5 separate regions of the Homo sapiens genome follow, and all the other regions are reported to be linked to region 3. The links are microRNA targets in miRTarBase. Many come from high-throughput screens and were not tested one by one. Region 3 holds a microRNA gene; each other region holds the end of a gene's coding sequence.

Region 1 (5,105 bases), not on the chromosome of region 3:
GGCTATGTCCAAGCATCAAAGAGAGACAAAAAATTTTTTGCCTGTGCTCCAAATTACTCGTATGCAGCCCTTTGTGAGTGCCTTCGTCGAGTATTCATCTATCGTCAGCCTGCTCCCATGTCCACTGTACTTTACAACAGAAAGGAAGGCAGGCAAGTAGGACAGGTTGCTAAGCAGCAAGTAGCAAGCCTAGAAACCAATGATCCTATTTTAGGATTTCAGGCAACAAATGAGAGATTATTTGTTCTTACTACCAAAAACCTCTTTTTAATAAAAGTAAATACAGAGAATTAATTATTCTAACATATTGGCCTCTTTGTACTGGAAAAGTATTCAGTGGTACCTGGAGGTCTGGACAGTTATACTGTAACCTCTTAAGTTTTAATGTGCTAAATATATCTTGTATGATTTTTTATTTTTTAATAACATTGGAAATATATTCAAGAGATTATGATTCTGTAAAGCTGTGGAATGAAGCTGCAGATTTAGAGAACATTGGCTTCTGAAAAAAAAAAAGAGTGAAGATAGTACTAGCAAGTATACTTATTTTTTAAAACAGGCTAGAATCTCATGTTTTATATGAAAGATGTACAATTCAGTGTTTAAAAATAAAAATATTTATTGTGTACTCTGTTCGTTGATTAGTTGCTACAGGCTGTACCTATAAGATGTACAGGATAATAGTTAAATGTTGAGTATTGTACATATGTATTTAAGTGGATTGAATAACTGAGTCTACATGGAGGAGGAAATGCTAGAGAACAGCAGGTCTAATATTTTTTAAGTTTACTGAGAGACCTTTATTATTATTTTCAAATTAAGTATAGCTTTATGTAACTTTTAGCCAGTTGCTCTGCCACAGACATAGACAAAGAGAGATAAGATTTCACATTATCCATCACTGCATAACAAACCACACCAAAACTCAGTGGTTTAAAACAAGGACTTTTATTATTTTTCACGATTCAGTGAGTTGGCTGTCTCTGCTGTACAGGGCCTCTCAGCCTCCAGTAGACTAGACGAATCTTCTTTCCATAGTAGAGAAAACATCTTAAGAGAGCAAGCTCCAATATGCAAGAGCTTATCGATCCTGTACATCTATCATATTTACTAATGTTCCATTGGACAAAGCAAATCACATGGCCAAGTCTAGAGTCAGAATGAGGGGACTACACAAGCTGACAGCGGATGGTATGACTCATTGGGGGCCATTGATGGAACAATCTTACCACACAAGGACAAATTATAATTTATCCTTGTGGCTCTCTTTATTTTTCTAACAACTTCAACAAAATAATCCTGTTTATATGTTATAGTTTCTTGCCACAAATTTTGTTTTTTCAAACTTACCTTTCCAGGTTTGTTTTAGTATGTATGTACCTGGAAATTTTTATTACTTTTTATACCATTTCAAGATATGTATCTTATATAAACCTCAAGTTGGATTTTATATTTTAATAAGGAAGTTAAGACCTTCATTTAAGAGGCAGAAGATTAAGATAAGAAATATAAGATAGAAAAGCTTTGTTCCTAACATATCTTTTGCCTGTCTGGGCAAGTATTTGACTCAACTAAATTTTAATGAACGAATGAATGACAGAGAGGAGGAAAAAAGATGAGGATTGCATACATGTTCTAAACCCTTTGTCAGATTGCAGTTTCCTAGAGAGTATTGAGGTGCTAGGTAGAAAGTTAGGAAAGGTCCTGAGGACTGGTATTGACAATTGGAGTCCTAATAGTACTCTATTCGTATTAGGAAAGAGAGACTAGATACCAAACATCACGAGATCATAGAGATGGAAAACTGTATAGTAACCAAAAACCAAAACAGTGATATTTCCAGAACTTTTTAGTATTGTTGTAAAACTTCATGAAACAAAAGACCATTTAAATAGTGAATTATTAAAAATCTTTATGATGGGAAAGTAGATCTAAATTTTCTCTAAAATTTTCCCCAAAGATAATATCCTCTTAGGGAACATAAGAAAAATGTATAATAAAAATGTGGTGCTTAATTAACCATGACTATGTATATATTGCCAATTTTAGTAATCAATATTCTTTGTGCATGTGATTTTTTTGCATGATTAATGTTGAATTGAAAGCTCTCAGGATAATTAATCCTAAATATTGTCGCATGTTGACCTACGTTAAAAGATGAATAGGTCTAGAGCCGTGATTTCAAGCTATTTTCCTGAAATGCTTCAGGGATTCCATAAACATTTAAACAATGTTCTAAGGTACATATACTTAGAACATTGAGATATATACTACAAGTGCTAAGAATATAGTACCTTGTATTTTTGTTGATTTTTATCATGTTTTAAATAGGAATTTATAAAATATTTATGATAGTAATAAAGTAGTATTTTATGTGTTTTGCATATTAAGAGTCATTAACAATATTCACTCTTTTAACACATTTAAGCATCAACTATGTACCTTAGCATGATTTTTTCAGTATTAAGGATAATATATTACTAAGGATAAAGAGACAATCTACATTTTAATGATTTTCAGATAAAATTTCTTTTTAGGGAAAAAAAGAGGAGAGGGTGGCATAGAGTGGTTGCTTTCCTGCTAAGGAAGTCTGACCAGGGCTAGAACCTTGGGGACTACCCACAAGAGTCAGGTAGAGGAGTTGCCAATGGGAAGAGTTAGAAAAAAGAATCAGAGTGTCAAGAAATTAGGAATGGTTAACAATGTTAAAAAAAATACTCTTAAATAAAGTATACTCATCAAATTTCTACATAAAAGGGAAATGACTGTACAGAACAAGTTAAACCATCATTACACAGGAATTTCTAATATTTTGTGTTATTAACTATAGAAAAGAACAGATGGTAAGTTTATGTGTGGCAAGTCATATAAGAAGGCAAAACTGATACTTATCACTGATTATTACTGGAAGAATATTCTAATTACTTCTTAGTAGTAAGTGTGTCTTACTGAACAAGTAATAATAGTTGAGTGGTAAAAAACAAAAGCCCAATGATGGAAGTATAGAAGTAATAAAGCAAAGAGAAGTAAGGCCTTCTAGAATTGGTAAGAAAGAATAAATGCACAAAAAGAGCCAAGGTAAAAGGTACCCAACTAGATATCAAGATACATCATGAAGCAGTAAAAAGAGTAGCATCATTGCATTAGTAAACAAAATAGACACACATTTAATCGTCCTATACTTACAAGAAGAAAATATCTATATTCTCAAGGTTGAGAAGGCTTCTTAAGATCCAGAAGGCAAAAATATAAGCGAAAGGATTGATGAATTTGATCATTACAAAATGTAAAATTTCTTTATGACCTACTTTTGGTATAAGATAAAGCAACAGACTGAGGAAAGATATGTGACTTATGCGTAATGTATGAATGTTAAAATCTAGAACATAAGAACTATCATTTAATAAAAAAGCAAACAAGTTATACAAAAGGAAAGCAGACAAAAGATATGAACAGTTAATTCACAGAAAAGAAAATAAAGATGGTCAGTAAAGCTACAGTAATCAAGAAAATGTGGTATTGGCACCAATTTCAACAAATAGATCCATAGATCAGAATAAAGAGTCCAGATGGAGACTCAGACACATATGGTCAGTTGATTTTAGTCAGAGATATTTCAATGAAGAGGCAATTCAAAATGCAGAGATAATTTGATGGAGAAAAGATATATTTTTAACAAGTGGCGCAAAAACAATTGGGTATTCATTTTTGCCTTTGTAGTAGCCTAAATAGTGGCCACCTGAAGATATCAGGTTCCAATCCCTGGAACATGAAAATATAACCTTATGAAGATAAAGAGTCTTTGCAGAAGTGATTACAATGAGGATCTTTACATGGAAAAATTATCCTGGATTATCTGGGGTGGACCCTAAATCTAATTGCAGTGTCCCTTACAAGAGAGAGGCAGAGTGCAATTACAAACACAAAGAGGAGAAGCTTATGTGAAGATGGTGTTTAAAAGGCCACAAGCCGAGGAGTGCTAGAGCATGCTGGCAGCCACCAGAAGCTGGAAGAAGCAAGGAATAGATTCTCCCTCAGAGCCTCTGGAGGGGGAATGGCCCTGCTGACACCTTGATTTTGGTCTTCTGGCCTCAGATCTGTGACAGAATGCATTACCACCGAATTTGTGGTAAATTCATTACAGCGGCCATAGGAAACTAACACAGCCTTATATCAGAATTTACTTAAAATGGATCATGGACCTAAATGTAAAACCTGAAACTGTGCAACTTCTAGCAGATAACATAAAGGAAAAATTTTGTAAGGCTGGGTTAGGCAAAGATTTCTTGCATATGACACCAAACAAGAAAAGTGACAAATCATACTTCATCAAAATTAAGAAATTACGTTCTTAGGCAGTGTTGTGACAATGAAAAGCCACAGATTTGGAGAAAACATTTACAAATCACTATTTAATAAAGCACTAGTGTCCAGAATGTATAAAGAACCCTCAGAACTCAATAATAAAATAATCAAATATGTAAATTTTTTATTGGGCCAAAATTTTGAACAGATACATCATACAAGATGAATGGCAAGTAAGCATGTGAAAAGGCACTCAACGTTATTGGTCACTAGGAATGAGCAGATTGAAAGCACAATGCGGTATCACTACATAGCTATTGAAATCCTTTAATTGAAGACTGACCATTCCAGATGCTGGCAAAGGTATGAAACAAATGGAGCTCTCAAACACTGCTGTTTGGAATGTAAAATGGTAGAATCGCCTTTGAAAAGAGTTTAGTGGTTTTCTAAAATGTTAAACATGGATCTTCCATGTGACCCAGCTATTCCACTTACCCATTCTTTTACCTAAGAAAAATGAAAGTATATGTCTATTCAAAGATTTGAACAGAGCAACAGCATTCATAATAATCAAACCTCAGAACAAGTCAAATATCCATCTACAGATGAAGGGCTAAATACATTGTGCTATGTCCATGCAATGGATTATTACTCAGCAATAAAAAGTATCAATATACCCAACATAGATGAATTGCAAAGTAATTATGCTGAGTGAAAGAAGCCAGAGTACATACTGTATGCTTCAACTCAAAGTTCTAGAAAGTGCAAACACATAGAAAACAGATCAGTGATTACCTGAG
Region 2 (5,105 bases), not on the chromosome of region 3:
ATACGTTTAAGTTCCACGTTCTGAACTCTACCCCATCCTCTGTGCTATCAGAATAAAACCACACTTGATGACATGAGTTGATTTTTTTCTGAGCCCTAATGGTTTCTCCTCGTTGGAGCTAGTTTGTTAACTAAATCAGAAATCAATTTGCTTTTTGTGTAGGTGGTTTTATTCTGTTAGGTAGAACTAGTCATTGTTAAACTTCTGTTTATCACTTCCTACTGTTAGGAATGATGGAACTATCAAATGTTATTTGATGGCTTTAGTTTCTGATCAGATTAATTCTTTTCCTTCCGTCTTTTTGACCTGCTTTTTATAAACAACTTTTATCATAAACAACTGTTAGTTTACCAAGCAATTAAGGATGTTGTGCATATTCTATAGCATGGTGCTTCTTCTTTACAGGTATTACTGCTAACATCATAGAGTGTTGGTAAAAACTGATGGGAAATACTGTAGCATAGTGTAGTAACTTATGACCAGTTTAGAAACTGAGATAGATTTACCTAGGGATATATGTGCTCCCTTGTGCCCACCTTGGTTTTTAGTAAGTTGCATATTGTCTTTATAGATTTTATTCTTACAGATTGTTGTATTTTGTAGCTGACTTTTATTAAAGACATTTTTTTCTCTTCCCTTCCCCAAATTATTTTTCTATTTTCAGTGACGCCAAGTCCAGTGAAAGGCAAAGGGAAAGTGGGTCGCCCCACAGCTTCAAAGGCATCAAAGGAAAAGACTCCTTCTCCCAAAGAAGAAGATGAGGAACCGGAAAGCCCGCCAGAAAAGAAAACATCTACAAGCCCCCCACCCGAGAAATCTGGGGATGAAGGGTCTGAAGATGAAGCCCCTTCTGGGGAGGATTAAAAGTGATGATGGTCTGGGGAGAGATTTTATTAAAAAAAAAAAGAAAAAAAAAGAAAAAAGAGGGAGGAAAAAAAAGAACCTACTTAAGATAGAACATGGTTTTGGCTATGGCTTGACTCATGGGCTTTCAGTGCTTTTTTCCATTTGTTGAAAGTAACATTTCTCTCTCTCTCTCTTTTTTTTTTTTTTTTTTTAAAGCAAACCATTGTATGTGTAAGTGTTTAAGTTACCTTTTTGTCTATTGGTCTCTTTGCCAGCCCTCCCCTTTCCCAATGAAAGCCATGTCAAATTAATCACTGGATTGACTGCTTCATCTTTTTATTTTTAATGAAAGGTGTACCACGGTTGTAAAGCAATAAGATTTGAGATGAACACTATTGAAACTTCGCTTTTTGCTAAAAAATAGCAAGTTGAATAGTAATCAAAAAACATAGAAAGATTTTAGTTCAAAATGATTGCTCCTTTCTCTACCTGGACTTTTAAAAAATCAATTGTCATCTAATATGAGTTTATTTGTCTATAGACACAAGTATCAATGTCTAAAAAAAATCATGACTTTAAACTTCCACCGATGAGGCAGGTAGGAGATAAAGATGAATTCTGAACTGTTACTAAAAGTACTCATTTTTTACCTTGTAGGGAGGGTGGGCAATGGGGTTACCTGACCTTATTTGAGGGTATGGGCTTTCTTTTTTATTTCATCACTTGTTATCTCAAAGAGACTCGGAGCCAGTGATCCTTTTATCCTGCTACAGTCTTTAGGGAGCTAAAAAAAAAAAAAAAGCAGGGGCTGCCAAAACTCTTGATTTCATATTTCCTTCTCTAAATATATATGTATCCTGTTTTTTGGATAAAATTTTACCAAGAATCCAAAAAAAAAAAAACCCTAGAATTTAATCAACAAGATCAGTCTACAGGTCACAGTGGATTTCTTTTCAAACTGACAATGTTTAGGTTTTAAGCAAATAAAGTTCCAGTTAATGTGAAACTCAGTCACAAAGAGTTGAGATTTTTCCTTTATGAAATAGAATTGACATTCTTTTATGCTATAAATGTGCATTCAGGTCCCATTAACCATGCTCTGCTTTTATTTGGGGATAGAACATTTTCTTTTTCATATCCCGATCTTCCCATTTCTTCATAGAAATGTGATAAGAAGTACATCCCTGTGATCCTGCTGCTTCGTAGAGCACCACTGCACACCCTACCCCGAGTGCCAACCACCTCTGCTATAGGACACTATTTTCCTGGCCCTATTCTTCACTTACTTCCCATCCTGTCCTTGACTAGGAATATGTTAAATGCTGCTCCCATACAATTCAGTTAGCTCTTGTCTTTTTATTTGGTCCAACCCCTGCTTTACTGCTCATGCTGCTTAAAGCAGGAGGGACTAGAGAAACAAGGCATTTTAGGAGGCCTGTGTGCAGTTGAAAACCGACTTTTACACGCCTTATAAAAGCAGTCAGGAGATAGATCCGTAGGTTTGATCCTTCACATCTAATACCAGGCGCTAATGGGAACAAGGTTTAAAGGGTCCTGGTATGCTAATAAATTGAAAAATTAGTGAAATTTAAACTTCTGCCTTTTTTTCCTGCCTTTTAATCTAGATTTGCTTCCTCAATATCCTACTTTGTGGTTTACTAGGAACATGCTTACTCTGATCTTTTTTTAAAAAACACACAGTGGCAGAGTCATTTCACTATTGCACTGTGTGTTAAAGAATGAATAAGGAGTTTTCAGTTACATGGCCAAAAATACAGGACTTGAACATAAATAGCAGTTGGATCATTCTCTTTCATGACGGTTAAATTCAGAGGTGTGAACTTTGTAATGAGGGTGTTAAAGATTAATCTATTTGCCTAAATGGGTTTGTTCAGGTATCCATTTTTAACAAAGAAGTTTGTGTTCATATAGTAAAAGACCTATCAGTGTTTCCACCATGCACTTCTATTTTTTAGGAGTTTATAATTTTAAGTCTTACATTCCTAGTAACATTTGGGCTTTTCTTAGGTTATGTTTCGTGAAGATTTGGGGGGAGGGCTCTTTTAAAACTTCAGCCTCAGTTGTTTAACAGTCTCTTTAATATATTAATCTGCACTAACATCTCTGTGATATATGCACATATTTTAGAGGTAATCATGTCTTCTAGATTACTTGTGTGCATTTGATTGGGCTTCTTGTTTAGGGTCCCTTTTAAAATTAATTCATTAGATTGAAAAATGTATTCTATATTTCTGATAGACTGGACAGAAGGATCTGTGTCCCCAAGTGAGACAGGCTCTGAATAACCTTTGTTTTCTCCACTTTTTATTGATGATTTAAAACACTCTAGTCTTCCCCTCAAATCATGCATGCAAATAGGAGGACAGTGGTGGTGACTCAACTGGATACAGGTGCTCAATAGTCAGGCTTGATAGTGATGTCAGGACGCATTACAAGCTGTAAGCCGATACTGACTGGCCATTGGCACCATCCTTGACTAACCTTCCTCTTTTTCTCTAGTGTGCCTATGGTGAAATGGCAATAGCATTCACTGTCGTATTTTGCAGTGCTCAGGAAGTGGGACGTTAACTTTGAAGGTGCTTGTTTGTATTAGCTCTGCTAGGTTTACCTCTACAACGTAGATTTCAGCAGCTATGCTGACTGACACTACATTCTAGTTCTTAAGATTTTTTTTCCAGATCCCCCCTTCCCCAGCTAGACATACGTAGCATACTTTCATCTTATTCAGTCTTTCTGTAACCTGCTGCTGCTTTTAGTCCTCCTCACCTCAGATCGGAATCAATGGAGTGGGCCCAGAGGATACATTTTAATTCCAGTAATGGTAGGTAGATTTGTCCTGCTTTCTAAAACATCTCCTCATTTCATATTTCCACTCCATATTGATTCCATAAGGGAAAATTAATGGGTGTTTCCTCCTTTAGGGAGGTAATGCAAAGAGTGTGGACATCTTCTAATCTTGAGGAACAGTAGTTGATTTCCCTTGAAGGAGCTTACATATTGACTGTTTTCACAATAACCTGTTTGCCCCAGTTCAATCCTCATTTTAATACTTAATTTGGTACTGGCTCAAATAGCATTTTCTTACAGATAACAAATCAAGAGTGAAATTTGAGGTTATACTCCAGTAAAGTTTTTAACACTTGTGAATATGGTCAGCTAGACTAAACTTGACTCTTTTTTTTAATGGCTTTTTTATCTGTGAACATTCAGATAAGTGGATTTTCAAGTACTGGTTGGGGATGGGAATCGTGCTTTTCTTTAAACTTCAGTTTACGAGATGCTTTGAGAGCGTTAGGCAAAAGCAGAAATAAATATCAGGAGCAACGGGGAAAGCTTTATAAAAGATCATGGTGGCCACTGTTGCAGCTTTGAAGAATGAGTGCTGGCTTGAACAGTTCTTTGCCTGCATCATTGGTAGCTGCACTGAAAGGAAAAAACTTTCACCTTAAGAATTTGAAAAGGAAGAAACCTGGGCTCTGGTCTTCATGGCATTTAGACTGAGATGCTTAAACAGAACAGAAGTAATACGCATTTCCTGCCATAGGATAGGGAAAATGTAACAAGCTGGTTGCTCTTGAGGTTAGAAAATTGTCTGTTTCTCTGTGGATGAAGCTGGATTTACTTGAAAATGGAGAGTTGGCTTATTGTTTGAATATTGGGACATCAAGCTATCTATAGCCAAGTTTCAGTCGCAACCAGTTTTCCCTTTGTCTGGGGTAAATTCGATACAAAATGATTCTTTTTGAATCCTGAATCCATAAATTACACTTTTTTTTTTCAAATTCACAAAATTCACAGTGGTGCTGACTGTGTAATAACCACTATTGGGAAACATCCCGTAAACCTGCCTGTTGCCATGCCAATGGAGTGACTGAACTGGTGACATCTGTTTGAGCATGCTTTGTGTGGCTGGTAGAATGCCACCGTTGTGCATACACTTTGTACATCAGGGGTGAAGGGAGGGTTTTCTAGATTATTGGGGGAGGGTAAAATTGGGATTTTTTTGTTGTTCCTTTTTTGATGGGGTGTGGGGGTATAGTACTCAGCTTATGCCCTAAAATAACATGTATAAAAACCCCTGAAGTATTGTGTGGGTGTGTACGTGTGAGTGTGTGTTTGTATACATCTGGCAATTAAAGCTTTGTCTTCTGGAACTTAGTGAATTCTTTTCTCTTTTTCCTCCAGAAGTATTTGTTACAAGATTTGTAAATAAGAGCTCTACTTAGTTTGTTTACCAT
Region 3 (5,105 bases):
TGACTGTGTTCACAATCTTTTTAGGTTAACTCGTTTTCTCTTTGTGATTAAGGAGAAACACTTTGATATTCTGATAGAGTGGCCTTCATTTTAGTATTTTTCAAGACCACTTTTCAACTACTCACTTTAGGATAAGTTTTAGGTAAAATGTGCATCATTATCCTGAATTATTTCAGTTAAGCATGTTAGTTGGTGGCATAAGAGAAAACTCAATCAGATAGTGCTGAAGACAGGACTGTGGAGACACCTTAGAAGGACAGATTCTGTTCCGAATCACCGATGCGGCGTCAGCAGGACTGGCCTAGCGGAGGCTCTGGGAGGGTGGCTGCCAGGCCCGGCCTGGGCTTTGGGTCTCCCCGGACTACCCAGAGCTGGGATGCGTGGCTTCTGCTGCCGGGCCGACTGGCTGCTCAGGCCCCAGCCCTTGTTAATGGACTTGGAGGAATGATTCCATGCCAAAGCTTTGCAAGGCTCGCAGTGACCAGGCGCCCGACATGGTAAGAGACAGGCAGCCGCCGCTGCTGCATTTGCTTCTCTTAAAACTTTGTATTTGACGTCTTATTTCCACTAGAAGGGGAACTGGTCTTAATTGCTTGATGAAGAGCAGGAGACTCATTTATGTGAGTCTTTTGAGTGACCATTGTCTGGGTCACTCCCATTTAACTTTCCCTAAAGCCCATTTGAAGGAGAGGTCGCACGAGCTGCTCCACAACCTCTGAATGGGGATGGCATGGGTAATGATGCTTGAGAACATACCAAGCCCCACTGGCATCGCCCTTGTCTAAGTCATTGACTGTAGGTCATCATCGCACCCTTGAAAGTAGCCCATGCCTTCCAAAGCGATTTATGGTAAATGGCAGAATTTTAAGTGGCAAATTCAGATAAAATGCATTTCTTGGTTGTTTCCAATGATGACTGTTATCTAGAGGGAATTTAAAGGCAGGGGTTTACTGCAGACTCAGAAGGGAGGGGATGCTCCGGGAAGGTGGAGGCTCTGAGCATCTCAATACCCTCCTCTTGGTGCAGAAGATATGCTGCCACTTCTAGAGCAAGGGGACCTGCTCATTTTTATCACAGCACAGGCTCCTAAATTCTTGGTCTCATTCTCAAGATGTTTTAATGACTTTAAAGCAGCAAAGAAATATTCCACCCAGGTAGTGGAGGGTGGTAATGATTGGTAATGCTTTGGAACCAAAACCCAGGTGGCGCTGGGGCAGGACTGCAGGGAACTGGGGTATCAAGTAGAGGGAGACAAAAGATGGAAGCCAGCCTGGCTGTGCAGGAACCCGGCAATGAGATGGCTTTAGCTGAGACAAGCAGGTCTGGTGGGCTGACCATTTCTGGCCATGACAACTCCATCCAGCTTTCAGAAATGGACTCAGATGGGCAAAACTGACCTAAGCTGACCTAGACTAAACAAGGCTGAACTGGGCTGAGCTGAGCTGAACTGGGCTGAGTTGAACTGGGTTGAGCTGAGCTGAGCTGAGCTGGGCTAAGTTGCACCAGGTGAGCTGAGCTGAGCTGGGCTTGGCTGCACTAAGCTGGGCTGAGCTGGGCTGAGCTGGGCAGGGCTGGGCTGAGCTGAGCTGGGCTGGGCTGAGCTGGGCTGGGCTGGGCTGGGCTGAGCGGGTCTGAGCGGGGCTGAGCTGAGCTAGGCTGGGCTGGGCTGAGCTGGGCTGAGCTGGGCTGAGCTGGGCTGAGCAAGGCTAGGCTGAGCTGGGCTGAGCTGAGCTGGGCTGAGCAAGGCTAGGCTGAGCTGAGCTGAGCTGGGCTGCGCTGAGCTGGGCTGGGCTGCGCTGAGCTGGGCTGGGCTGAGCTGGGCTAGGCTGGGCTGAGCTGGGCTGAGCTAGGCTGGGCTGGGCTGGGCTGAGCGGGGCTGAGCGGGGCTGAGCTGAGCTAGGCTGGGCTGAGCGGGGCTGAGCTGAGCTAGGCTGGGCTGGGCTGGGCTGAGCCAAGCTGAACCGGGTTGAGCGTGCTGTGCTGGGCTGAGCCAAGCTAGGCTGAGCTGAGCCAAGTTGAGCTTAGCTGGGCTGAGCTAACCTGGGCAGGGCTGAGCTGGGCTGAGCTAACCTGGACTGGGGCTGAGCTAACCTGGGCAGAGCTGAGCTGGGCTGAGCTAACCTGGGCTGGGGCTGAGCTAACCTGGGCTGGGCTCAGCTGAGCTGAGCTACGCTGGGCTGGGCTGGGCTGAGCCGAGCTGAACTGGGCTGAGCAGGCTGTGTCGGGCTGAGCCAAGCTGGGCCGAGCTCAGCAGAGCTGAGCCGAGCTGAGCTTAGCTGGGCTGAGCTAACCAGGGCTGGGCTGAGCTGGGCTGAGCTGAGCTGAGCTGAACTGGGCTGAACGGGCTGAGGCGAGCAGGGCCGAGCTGAGCAGAGCTAAGCCGAGGCTGGGCTGGGCTAACCTGGGCTGGGCCGAGCTGAGCAGAGCTAAGCCGAGGCTGGGCTGGGCTAACCTGGGCTGGGCTGAGCTGAGCTGGGTTGGGCAGGGCTGGGCTGGGCTGAGCTAAGCTGAACTAGGGTGAGCTGGGCCGAGCCAGGCTGGTTTGGGCTGAGTTGAGCTGACCTGGACTGGGGCTGAGCTAACCTGGGCTGGGCTCAGCTGAGCTGAGCTACGCTGGGCTGGGCTGGGCTGAGCCGAGCTGAACTGGGCTGAGCAGGTTGTATCAGGCTAAGCCAAGCTGGGCCAAGCTCAGCAGAGCCGAGCCGAGCTGAGCTTAGCTGGGCTGAGCTAACCAGGGCTGGGCTGAGCTGGGCTGAGCTGAGCTGAGCTGAACTGGGCTGAACGGGCTGAGGCGAGCAGGGCCGAGCTGAGCAGAGCTAAGCCGAGGCTGGGCTGGGCTAACCTGGGCTGGGCTGAGCTGAGCTGGGTTGGGCAAGGCTGGGCTGGGTTGAGTTGGGCTGAGCTAAGCTGAGCTAGGGTGAGCTGGGCTGAGCCAGGCTGGATTGGGCTGAGTTGAGCTGACCTCAACTGAGCTGACCTAGGCTGAGCTGAGCTGAGCTGAAGTAGGCTGTGCTGGGCTGAGCTGGGATGACCTGGGCTGGGCTGAGCTGATTTGGGCTGGGTTGAGCAGACCTGGGCTGAGCCGGGTTGAGCTGAGCTGAACCAGGATGAGCTGGGCTGAGCTGAGCTGGGCTGGGTGGTCCAGGCTGGGCTGACCTGGACCAGGCTGGGCCAGGTTGAGCTGGGCTAAGCCGAGCTGAGCTGAGCTGAGCTGGGATGATCTGGGCTGGGCTGGGCTGGGCTGAGCTGACCTGGGCTGGGCTGGGCTGAGCTGAGCTGAGCTGAGTTAAGCTGAGCTGAGCTGAACTGGGCTGTGCTGAGCTAGGCTGGGCTGGGCTGAGCTGGGCTGGGCTGGGCTGAGCCAGATTGTGCCTGGCTGAACTGAGCTGGGCTAAGCTGAGCTGGGCTGAGCTGGGCTGAGCTGAGCTGGGCTGAGTGGGGCGGGGCTGAGCTGAGCCGGACTGGGCTGGGCTGGGCTCAGCTGAGCTGAGCTGAACTGGGCTGGGCTGAACTGGGCTGGGCTGAGCTGAGCTGAACTGGGCTGGGCTGAACTGGGCTGGGCTGAGCTGAGCTTGGATGAGCTGGGCTGAACTGGGCTGGGTTGAGCTGGGCTGGGCTGAGTTGAGCCAGACTGATCTGGGCTGAGCCGAGCTGGGTTAAGCCGAGCTGGGTTGGGCTGGGCTGGGTTGGGCTGGGCTGAGCCGGACTGGGTTGGGCTGAGCTGAGCTGGACTGGGCTGAGCTGAGCTGGTCTGGGCTGGCTGAGCTGAGCTGTGTTGAGCCAAGCTAGGCTGGGCTGGGCTGAGCTGGGCTGAACTGGGCTGAGCGGAGCTGAGCTGAGCTGGGCTGGGTTGAGCAGAGCTGGGGGCTGAGCTGGGCTGGGCTGGGCTGAGTTAAGCTGGGCTGACCTGGGCTGAGTTAAGCTGGGCTGACCTGGGCTGAGCTAAGCTGGGTTGAGCCGATCCGGGCTGGGCTGGGCTGGGCTGAGCCAGGCTAGGTTGAGCTGGGCTGGGCTGGGCTCTGCTGTGCTGTGCTGAACAGGGCTGAGCTGAACTGAGCTGAGCTGGGCTGAGCTGGGCTCTGCTGTGCTGTGCTGAGCAGGGCTGAGCTGAACTGTGCTGAGCTGGGTTGAGCTAAGCTAGGCTGGGCTGGGCTGAGCTGGGATGAGCTGGGCTGGGCTGGGCTGGGCTCTGCTGTGCTGTGCTGAACAGGGCTGAGCTGAACTGAGCTGAGCTGGGCTGAGCTGAGCTCTGCTGTGCTGTGCTGAGCAGGGCTGAGCTGAACTGGGCTGAGCTGGGCTGAGCCGGGCTGAGTTGAGCAGAGCTGGGTTGAGCAGAGCTGGGCTGGGCTGGGCTGAGTTGAGCCAGGCTGACCTGGGCTGAGCCAAGCTGGGTTGAGCCAAACTGGGCTGGGCTGGGCTGAGCCAGGCTGGATTGAGCTGGGCTGGGCTGGGCTAAGCTGGGCTGTGCTGCACTGAGCTGGGCTGAGCTGGGTTGAACTGTGCTGAGCTGAGCTGGGCTGTGCTGAACTATGCTTAGCTGGGCTGGGCTATACTGGGCTTAGCTGGGCTGGGCTAAACTGGGCTTAGCTGGGCTGGGCTATACTGGGCTTAGCTGGGCTGGGCTATACTGGGCTTAGCTGGGCTGGGCTATACTGGGCTTAGCTGGGCTGGGCTGAGCTGAGATGGTCTTAGGTGGTCTGAGCTCAGCTAGGCTGGGCTGAGCTGGTCTGAGCTCATCTGAGTTGGGCTGAGCTGAGCTTGGCTTTGCTGAGCTGGGGTGGGGTGGGCTGGGCTGGATTGAGCTGGCCTGGGCTGGGATGAACTGGATTGAGCTGGCCTGGGCTGGGATGAACTGGAGGACATGGCACTGGGCCAATCTTCATGATCTTGTTGGACATAGATGGATAGCCTCAGCTGAGTCTACACTGCGTTCCCCATCACACTCACCCTCCCTATACTCACTCCCAGGCCTGGGTTGTCTGCCTGGGGAGACTTCAGGGTAGCTGGAGTGTGACTGAGCTGGGGGCAGCAGAAGCTGGGCTGGAGGGACTCTATTGGCTGCCTGCGGGGTGTGTGGCTCCAGGCTTCACATTCAGGTATGCAAC
Region 4 (5,105 bases), not on the chromosome of region 3:
GGATAAACAGGAGGCTATGCAGGGTGATTGATCGTACAGATGAGTATATTCTCAGTTCCAGAACCTCCTGAAGGTTTCTGCACCATGACAAGGTGGCAGCTTTTGTACTGATTTTACTCTAGATCCAGGGTTCATAGAACTTAGATAAAACTTTCTCTTCCTCCAAGTTCTTTTCTTAATTTAACTACAGGAAAACACACATTCTTTTTTTACTGTGTTTTAGGTTTTTACATGAAATCTCTGTATTTGCTGAAATATTTTGATATGTTGTCATGAAGAATTGAAATTCACACATAATCCAAATAATTTCTTTTAGCTTCTTTCTAGAGCTGCCAACAGATAGTAAAATGGATCCGTTTTTAATATATCATCCTCTCCATACCCACCTTTAGACAGGCAACATAACTGGCATCAAACTGAGCAAAAGTTATGAATACTGTATCCTTACTAGCCCAAATTTTCATTTTTGTCACTCTGCAGATTTGCTGTGATGGCCTGTTGCTGGGCCTTAGATCCAGAGGAGAGGCCCAAGTTTCAGCAGCTGGTACAGTGCCTAACAGAGTTTCATGCAGCCCTGGGGGCCTACGTCTGACTCCTCTCCAATCCCACACCATCAGGAAGAAGGTGCCTGTCGGGGCTCACTTGAAGCCTGTCAGGGATGCTTTGTATCTAACACAACGCCAACAGAAGCACATTTGTCTTCCAGAACACCGTGCCTTAGAAATGCTTTAGAATCTGAACTTTTTAAGACAGACTTAATAATGTGGCATATTTTCTAGATATCACTTTTATTAGGTTGAACTGAAAGGGTTTTTGTAAATTTTTTGGCCAAAATTTTTTAAAACATACTTACTTTGGACTAGGGGTACATTCTTACAAAATAAATAAACAGTTTTTAAAATTGTTTAGACACAGATATTTGGAATTAGCTATCTTAGTGCCAACTGCTTTTTATTTTTTTACTTCATCAAGGTGATGTAAGTGACTCACCTTTAAAGTTTTTTTAGTGTTATTTTTTATCACTACTCTGGGAAATGGTTTGTCTTCAAGATGCAATACTTTTCTTAGTAAAGGAAAAACAGCATAAAAAGATACCTGGTCTGCCTTGTACAAGAAAAGGCAATATTAGAGGAAGAAAATTTAAAGAAAAGCTAGAGGAAAAAAAAATTTTTTTAAAAATACTTATTAGAAGCAAACTGCCCTTGCATGGAAAACTGTTTATTTTTTTCAGTGAAAAGGAATTCTGCTTTCGTGTTTTTGGGAAAGCAGGAACTGAGTTCATTACATCTTTAATTTGGCAGAAATTAGCCTTTCTGTGAACCAGATGTGGTTTGGGGCAGATCTGTAGTAAACAATGGTGATTTTATTTATTTTTACTCTCTGGAAAAGGAGATAATACAATTCCAGAAAGTGAACTCATATTTCTAAGGTTAAGATTCCCTTTTATTGCACCTAGAATAGTGCTATGCACAGAGCGGGTGCTTGAGTTGTTGTCGTTTTTTGTTTGTTTTTTAAATGTAAACTGGTAAATTTTGTGCTTATCTTCAAGGCTGGCTTAAGTATAAAATTGTTTTTTAAACACTTGAAAAATTAAAGGATTTGTTTTATATTATGACAGTATTGAAATTATTTTTCATAATGAATGATTGGTTATTGTGTCTGGTAAGTCTTTGAACATTCAACAGCCAGACATTTGTGTTTTATTTCATGATGTTCCAGTCAAGTTCCAAAGCCCTAACACAGTTAAGCTGGCTCAGACTCCAGGTTCTAGTAAAAAGTTGGAATTAATGTTATAAGGAAGTATTAAAACACTGAAACATTTCTCCAGAACCAGCAAGTAAGGGATATGTATGTATTTATGCTCAGTTTTAGTTGGCCTAAAGCAGAGTTGAATGGGCTTTCTAAATAGCTAGGCCTGCAGGTACCTGCCACTACTCCCATCTTCAGAGGTATATAAGGGAGAATGTGTAGCAGTTGGAGGCTTTTGCTGTTTTTAAAAAAGCCTTATGAATCAGCAGCACATCGGGAAAAATAGCTCACATAGTACCTGGTTTTCCACAAGTAAGCCAAGGGCATGATTTTCTGTGTACATTTATTAACAGTTCTTTGGTTTTATGAAATACTCATATGAAGCCAGTCCCTGGAGTACTGTTTTTTAAAAGGTCCCTTTGAACCATTTGTAAATTATATTTTCATTCATAACCTGCATTCTTAGAAGGCATTCAGTCAACATTTACAGCACTTACTGTGTATTTTCCACATGGAGTGGTTCAACTCAAGCGTCCCTTCCAGTATTCAGGGCATTCTTATTTCATGTTCAAGTGAGTGCATTGTTTAGAAATCACAGTTTATTAACATGTACATGATCTATTTTAAAAAAAAAATAAGTACTGACACCTGACTTCTACTCCCAATTAGCAGATTGTAAGAAATGTCCTCAGTTTGGTGGATGGTGTGGTGCCTGTAACCTTATCTTTTTGTGTTTGTGAGCACTTTTATTTTATGTATGTATTTTTATTGTAGTAGATTTTTCTTGGTGAGCTACTTGGAGTCTTTGACATGGGAAGGAAAGAGCAGTTATAAGATCTCCCTGACTCATGTTCTTCCAGTAGTTTTATTGTAGATTGTGAATGTTACTGAAGTTTTACATTTTACTGATTTTGCAGAAAATATAATTTTTATGGAAAAGAAGCAAATTGACAAAGCAGTGTTGTGGTATTATAAGCTGGCTCTGGTGACCTAGAGATGCATTCTATTCTGTTTTTTCTTGTAATCCTCCTGTTCTAGAAATTTTTTTTTTTTTTATTGATAGAGGGAGGATTGGGTTGCTCATTCAGTATATATTTATTGAGTGCCCACTGTATCCTGGCTCTCGGGATAATGCAGGGAACAAGATAGATGAGGTTCTTCCCTTTCTAGATTTTGCATTCTAGTTAAGAAAAACAGGTAATGAACATAAATAAGATTTTGGTAAGTGCTATGATAGAAATAATAGAGTGATATTAGAGAGTGTAACTTTAGATGTCATAATTAGCCAAGCTTCTCTAAGCAGGTGGCATTTGAATTGTGATCTGAATGGCAAGAAGCAGCCAGCCATGAGAACACAGAGGCAGAAGGCACATAATTGCAGAAGCCTTAAAGCAGAAGCAAGCTGGCCTCCAATCTCAGCCGTTCCCCTTCATTCTCTAGCTGCTGCTGCTGTTGGAAAAAGAGAAAGGTAGCTAGCGTGGCTAGAATGTAGTTAGGGAAGGGAGTGGTACAAAGAAGCAGGTCTTTGTAAGCTGTGGCATACATTTATATTTTTTGCTGAATACAATGGGAATTCATTTGAGGATTTTTCAAGTAAGTAGCGATATGATCTGATTTGTCATTTTGAAAAGGTTGTGCCATCTCCTCTGTGAAGACTGGATTGTGAGAATTCAAAGGAAGAAGTAATGAGACCCTTTAAGAAGCCGTTGCATAGTTCAGAAAAGAAAAGATAGTGGTTTGGACCACTTTGAGTAGTGAGGAGATACAGAGAGAAGGGGCAGATTGGAGATATGTTTTGAAGATACACCAGGACCTGGATCCATTGGATGTTGACGGTGGGGTGAAGAAGGAAGCGGGGAGGTGAGGAATGACTAATTGATTTGGGGCTTGAGCATCTGGTTTTATGGCCAAGCTATATACTGAGATGGGGAAAAATCTAGGAGAAACTGAATTTTGCATTGGCCAGAGAAATCCATAATTTGGTGTAGACTGTGTTTGAGATGCCAGTTGATCATCTGTATGGAGATTTTTGATAGATGAGAGTCTGCAGCTCAGGGAAGGTCTCATTGAACATACAAATGTAGGAGTATAGCATATAGACTATTTTTAAAGCCATGGTACTGGATGGAGTTGATAGGGAGAGAGTGTATAGATGGAGAGGAGGTCCTAGGACTGAGTCTTGAGCATTCTAACCTTCAGTTCCAGCTAGTGAAGAAAGAAGAGATAACAAAGACAGGAAAAGCCACTGTAATTGATAAAAGCAACAACAAAAAAGTGAAAATGAGGTGTTGCAGGAGCCCAAGAAAGGTCGTGTTTCAAAATGGAGACGCCTCCATCAGATTTGGCAATATGGAGTTAACTGGCAGGAGCATGGGGACTGGAGCAAGTCGAAGTGTGGACACAGGTGGGGACGTAAAGGCCTACCACTGTCAGCCCTGCTGTGAAGGGAAATGAAGCAATAACTAGAGGAGATCAAAGGGGGTTTTTCGGGAGAAGAGGGACAGGGATGAGAGTGTTTTCCAGATGAAGGTACAGTGCCAGAAAATGTTTCATGGGCTCATGGGAATGATCCGGTAGAGGGAGAAAAATCCCTCTGGGGTATGGGCCACTGCTCTTCCTTGCCATTTGGTCCACAACCATGAAAGCCTTTCACTCTGGCCCCGAGCCCTTTTGTTGTATAAGGGTTGTGTGTTTACTGGGGGAGAAATGTGAGGGAGGTAAGGTAAGGGAGGCGGTACACAAAACTGCCACCGTCCCATTACCCAACAGCCTGCCTCTGTTGAGGGGCTTTCCTGGGACTTCAGACTGGCACCCTCATTGTGCTTGCAGCTGTCATGTTTCCTTGCCCAGATTGCCCATAGCTGCTTCCCTGGCCTCGGCCTTGAACCCCTCTAGCCAGCAACTGCCCAGGTAACACTTTATAAAACTGAGCCGCTGTCCCTGCTTGGAGCCTTCAGAGTAGACTTCAGACCTAGGCAGAGTATCCACTCAGCTCTGCCGTTTCTCCTGCTCCCCACTTCGGGCCTGCACGCTTCCCGCCGCTCGGCATGCTCCTTCCCCTTCTCCGAGAATGACGTGCTCCCCGCACTCCCCACACTGCCGCCTTGGGACCAAGAAGGTGCCTCTCACACCTTACTGCTCTCCTCCAGGCTTCGTGGTTGCTTTTCAGCCTTTTTCCCTGGATTTGAACTTTAACAAAGGTAAGATGGAGGTTTATTTTTCACCACTTGGCTGTGAGTTCCTTGAGGATAGGAACTTGTGTTTTACTCAGATCTGAATCTCCATTGCTTTAGTGGTGTGCTCAATACATGGTAGGGGTGAATATTTAATGAATGAATGAGTGAAAATATCTAAAT
Region 5 (5,105 bases), not on the chromosome of region 3:
TCCCATAACCCTCCACCTGCTTCCAGATCGCGACAATGACAAAAGCCTCCGTCAATTCCGGTACACTTTCCAGGCTTGTTTGTACGAGCTCCTGAAAAGGCTGTGTAATCGGGCTGTGCTGCTGTTTGTAGCAGTTGCTGGACTCACGTTTTTTGCCCTGAGCTTTGGTTTTTACTATGAGTACGGCTGGGAATTTTTGGAACACACCTACTTTTATCACCTGACTAGGCGGGATATCCGTCACAACTTTTCTCCGTACTTCTACATGCTGTATTTGACTGCAGAGAGCAAGTGGAGTTTTTCCCTGGGAATTGCTGCATTCCTGCCACAGCTCATCTTGCTTTCAGCTGTGTCTTTCGCCTATTACAGAGACCTCGTTTTTTGTTGTTTTCTTCATACGTCCATTTTTGTGACTTTTAACAAAGTCTGCACCTCCCAGTACTTTCTTTGGTACCTCTGCTTACTGCCTCTTGTGATGCCACTAGTCAGAATGCCTTGGAAAAGAGCTGTAGTTCTCCTAATGTTATGGTTTATAGGGCAGGCCATGTGGCTGGCTCCTGCCTATGTTCTAGAGTTTCAAGGAAAGAACACCTTTCTGTTTATTTGGTTAGCTGGTTTGTTCTTTCTTCTTATCAATTGTTCCATCCTGATTCAAATTATTTCCCATTACAAAGAAGAACCCCTGACAGAGAGAATCAAATATGACTAGTGTATGTTCCACACCCTCTGCTACTGTGTTACATTCTGATTGTCTTGTATGGACCAGAAGAGAGCTTTGGGACATTTTTTCTGAACATTCTAAGCATTCTAGTGAAAGTTCCCATGTTCCAACAGAACTTAAAAGCAATGTTTGCCTTATATATAAAAGGGACACAATAATTGAGGTCCACCTTCTAGGAAATCCTAGGACTCGTTTATTTGGGACATGGTGGGAATAAAGGTCACATATTGGAAAATGGAAAGGCTGATGAAACTATCAGATACTAAAACATTCTTAAAATAGAGGAATATAGTTAGAGACATCAGGTTTAAGCCAGTATTTGTTCCTGTTTTACAATGCTTCTGTCTTAAGCTGTGTCTTAACTTTTAACACCCATCTTTTCTTTCTAAAGCTTTCCTGACAGCTGTGAAAATCCAAAAAATATTCTTAAACTGTGTATGGTGGCCCTTGCCTGTAGTCTCAGCACTTTGGGAGGCTGAGGTGGGAGGGTCGCTTGAGTTCAGGAGTTCTAGACCCACCTGGGGCAAGATGGTGAGACCTAGTCTCAAAAAAAAAAAAAAAAATTAGCCAGGTGTTGTGGTGCACCCCTGTAGTCATAGCTGCATGGGAGGCTGAGGTGGGAGAATTGCTTGAGCCCAGAGCAAGACCCTGTCTCAAAAAAAAAAAAAAAAAAAAAAAGGAAAGGACAACTTTTTAGATAGAAAAGTATTAAATAATACTAAGATGCTTAGTAGTATTATTTTAGAGAGTTTTAAACTTCTATATTAAATGTGGGGTCTTACAAGATAATCCAAAGACTTTGGGAGGCCAAGGCGGGCAGATCACGAGGTCAGGAGATTGAGACCATCCTGGCTAACACGGTGAAACCCCTCTCTACTAAAAATACAAAAAATTAGCCGGGCGTGGTGGGTGCCTGTAGTCCCAGCTACTCCTCGGGAGGCTGAGGCAGGAGAATGGCGTGAACTCCGGAGGTGGAGCCTGTAGTGAGCCGAGATGGCACCACTGCGCTCCAGCCTGGGCGACAGAGCAAGACTCCATATCAAAAAAAAAAAAAAAAAAAGATAATCCAAAGAATTTAAATTGTAATCATGTTTCATGTATTTGTTTTATTACTTACTTTTATAGCACTTAGTCCCAGTGGTATTAGACTGCTATTTGGTTTCATACAAAAAGGATTAAATTTAAATTCATTCATGTTTAGACTTGAGTTATTACATTTTTAAAACTATCATCTTGCCTTTAATGTTTGTGGTCCTACACAAACTATTAGTACATTTCAGTATCCTCTTACCCCTTTGTTTTTAAGTTTTTGATTGCTAAAGCAAGACTTTTTTCTTCTAGAATTTAAGTCAACCAAGTGTTATCTATGTTGTAAAAATGGATAATAGTAGATTTTAGGTGATAAAACAACTTGTTAGTAAGACATTTCCTAGCTTAAAAAAAAAAATCAAAAATTCCATGATAGAAATGCAGACCTGTGAGGGAAACTCCTGAAAAGCATAAGAAGCATCCCAGAGAGCCATGGGTTTTCTAGACCAGAGAATTTAGAGGGAGATTGTGGAACTGAGGCTTAGGTGGTCAGATCGTTTCCCTTATCACTGTAATATTTCTGGGGGAAAAATGCTTTCTGAGTTGTTTAAACAAGCATCCTTACATTTTTTTTTTTAATTAAACAGCCTGTCTAGGCTTGGGATTCCCTAATACTACAGTAGCAGTATATGAATATGATTTTGTGATTGTGTTTTTTAAAAGATAAGTAATTTGATGAACTGTTCTTTTGCAGTCAGAAAACACTCACAAAAAGACAAAAAAAGTTCCACAGTATTATATTTCATGTCAGTTCAGGCCTAAAATCCTTTGCAAATAAGATGTTTATAGGCTGGTCACAATTAACAATGTTATTATTGGCAGCACTTCTTGGATGGATACCTTTTGGGACCTTTCATTAGAAAGAGGGAAAGAATGGGGTGGTTTTGTATGGGCTCCTGTTTGGGGTAAAAATAGCAGAGTCAGTTGCTGAGGACAATGACCTTCCTTATAACATTTAGTTTCATACCCATATTAGGTCTTGTCTTGAGGACCCTTTATATGTGCTTGTTTACTAGTGGCCTTCCAGCCATAGCATTCTTACCTTTTTTTCCTATTCTAAGAATTAAAAAAAAAAATTATAGAGCCAGCAAGGGAGGAGGCAGGAAACAGAAATCGAATTTCATCATTCCAGTATAGTTGTCCCTTTTTTTGTATTTCTGACTTGGTTTTATAATTATATTTACTTACTAATTATTGTTTTTTAACATTCTTTATTGTGGCTTACTCTTCATACTTAGAATTGAAATTGTTGGACATCACATGTATATTCACATTATAAATACATCATTCTTCCACTGTTAGACCTTTAGATTGCTTCCAGTTTTTAATATTCTAAATAAGACTTTCAACATTTTCTGTGTTTTAGCTCATTCTCTTAGGACATTCTTAGAAGTTAGAAACATTTCTGCTGGGATCGTTGGAGGGAACTTCAAACTTTGGAATCTTTCCTGCAAGAAATTCTTTACCAAAGAAAGGCAGGTGTTTCTTAAAGGGATGCAAAAGATATTTTGCACTTTGTATGTTCCAAAACATTTAGTAAGTTAACTAAAAAAATGAGTTAATTTGGTTTCTTGGGGGATTTTAATTTTTTAATTTGTTTTCTGGTTATGTAAAAAAAATGTTTTTTTTTTGCTTCTTATCACAATCCTTTTGTTTCCTTTTTAATCCTTTAATAACACCTTCAAATTTTATAAGACTTTGGCTTATTTCCTATATAATTCTTTTTTTCTTATACCACCTCTTAAGATTGATATGTTCATTTGCAGGTAAGCATTAATTATTAGATAAAGAGGGATGATTCTCAAGATTGTGTGTGTTCTGAACAGAGGGAACTACATGACATTTTCTTCTGTAATTGCCTTTGTAACGTCTTTAGAATGTGGTTCCTAAATATTCCTGGATAAATTCTCTTGATAGGCCCATTGGAAAGGCTAATACTCCCACCCAGTGCTTTGTTCCTTCCTGGCAAAAGAATTCCTAAAACCACTGATTTTAGTTACTGACTTCTCACCATCTGGACTCTTACAAGATGTTTCAGAAGTTGTGTAGAACTTGTCTTTCAGTTGACTTGTGGCTGAATTTACTGTTACTTCTCTAATATCAGTTGTTTTCTGCATTACCACCCTCTCCCCTAACCATCTGTACTATGAATGGAAAAGGAAAAAGATGGAAAAATTATACCTAGGATTGTCCCTAAATGCAACCTCTTGGTTCCCCCCACCCCTCATGTTTTATTATAAACGATTTTAAGAGCTGGGCATGGTGGTTCATGCCTATAATCCCAATGCTTTGGGAAGCTGAGGCAGGAGGATCACTTGAGGACAGGAGTTTGAGACCAGCCTGGACAACATAGTGAGACCCCCATCTGTACAAAAAAAAAAGTGCTACTTGGGAAGCTGAAGTGGGAGGACCACTTGAGCCCAGGAATTCGAGGAGGTTATAGTGAACTATGATTGTGCCACTGCACTCCAGCCTGGGTGACAGAGCAACACCTTGCCTCTAAAACAAACAGCTCCAACTATTTTATTTTTTTATTTTTCTGAGACAAGATGTTGCTTTGTCACCCAGGCTGGAGTGCAGTAGTATAAACATGGCTCACTGCAGCCGAACTCCCAGGCTCAAGTGATCCTTCCTCCTCAGCCTCCCAAGTAGCTGGGACCACAGGTATTTGCCACCATGCCTGGCTAATCTTTATTTTTTGTAGAGACGAGGTCTTGCTATGTTGCAAGAGGGAGATCACTTAAGTGATCTTCCCTCATTGGCTTCCCAAAGTGTTGGGATTCCAGGCGTGAGCCACTGCACCCCGCCTGACCTAACTATTTTAAACACTACTCATATTGCCATCATCTAAATTCAACAACAATTTGCCATATTTGCTTTATGTATATGTATAATTATATATTTATAAAATTTTTTGAACCATGTGAAGTTGCAAACATCATTGAACTTCACCACTAAATATATCAGCATGCATCTCCTAAAAATCAGGTATTTTCTTACAAAACCATAATTCTGCTATCTATTATGATTTAACATTCTGTCATTTTCAAATTTCTTCAGGTGTTTTTTGTTACATCTTAAAGAACAGACGTTCTTGGATCTCAAAGATTCCGAGGAAGGAAAGAACATGGTGGATAATCCATAATTAAGAAGTTTGAATCTTTTCCTAGTCTTAAAAACAAAGTGAGAACTAAAGGGGTTTACCTTCCATCAAAGTTGAACAAATTAATTCTTTTGTGTGTCATACTTTCTGTCTCTCTCCCTAAAAACATGGGGGTGGTAATCTCTTTGTTTT

Evidence for each region. Region 3 holds the annotated microRNA hsa-miR-4538 (GAGCUUGGAUGAGCUGGGCUGA, at 3,569-3,590, shown strand). A microRNA usually pairs through its seed, bases 2 to 8, with sites in the 3' UTR of a target mRNA and lowers its output. Matches are read on the target gene's strand: a 7mer-m8 pairs with bases 2 to 8, a 7mer-A1 pairs with bases 2 to 7 and ends in A, and an 8mer does both.
Region 1: miRTarBase lists NUDCD1 as a target of hsa-miR-4538. Seed matches in the 3' UTR shown: 7mer-A1 at 2,183-2,189.
Region 2: miRTarBase lists NUCKS1 as a target of hsa-miR-4538. Seed matches in the 3' UTR shown: 7mer-A1 at 4,532-4,538.
Region 4: miRTarBase lists RYK as a target of hsa-miR-4538. The part of its 3' UTR that is shown has no 7-base or 8-base seed match.
Region 5: miRTarBase lists PIGM as a target of hsa-miR-4538. The part of its 3' UTR that is shown has no 7-base or 8-base seed match.

The regions. Positions count from the first base shown.
Region 1 is chr8:109,238,198-109,243,302 of GRCh38, reverse strand. It overlaps NUDCD1 (NudC domain containing 1), which reads left to right. Exons shown (of 10, transcript NM_032869.4): 10 at 2-2,384. The coding sequence ends at 294. Among named protein-coding and RNA genes, the nearest start is that of NUDCD1, 93 kb to the left of the region's middle.
Region 2 is chr1:205,714,039-205,719,143 of GRCh38, reverse strand. It overlaps NUCKS1 (nuclear casein kinase and cyclin dependent kinase substrate 1), which reads left to right. Exons shown (of 7, transcript NM_022731.5): 7 at 665-5,105. The coding sequence ends at 864. Among named protein-coding and RNA genes, the nearest start is that of NUCKS1, 34 kb to the left of the region's middle.
Region 3 is chr14:105,856,706-105,861,810 of GRCh38, reverse strand. It overlaps MIR4538 (microRNA 4538), which reads left to right and starts at 3,569; the gene lies at 3,569-3,646. MIR4539 (microRNA 4539) reads left to right here and starts at 4,239; the gene lies at 4,239-4,298. MIR4507 (microRNA 4507) reads left to right here and starts at 3,636; the gene lies at 3,636-3,687. It overlaps MIR4537 (microRNA 4537), which reads left to right and starts at 2,258; the gene lies at 2,258-2,327. It also overlaps IGH. RefSeq lists an enhancer at 1-22.
Region 4 is chr3:134,153,640-134,158,744 of GRCh38, reverse strand. It overlaps RYK (receptor like tyrosine kinase), which reads left to right. Exons shown (of 15, transcript NM_002958.4): 15 at 481-1,612. The coding sequence ends at 592. Among named protein-coding and RNA genes, the nearest start is that of RYK, 95 kb to the left of the region's middle.
Region 5 is chr1:160,026,072-160,031,176 of GRCh38, reverse strand. PIGM (phosphatidylinositol glycan anchor biosynthesis class M) reads left to right here. Exons shown (of 1, transcript NM_145167.3): 1 at 1-5,105. The coding sequence ends at 709. Among named protein-coding and RNA genes, the nearest start is that of PIGM, 3.4 kb to the left of the region's middle.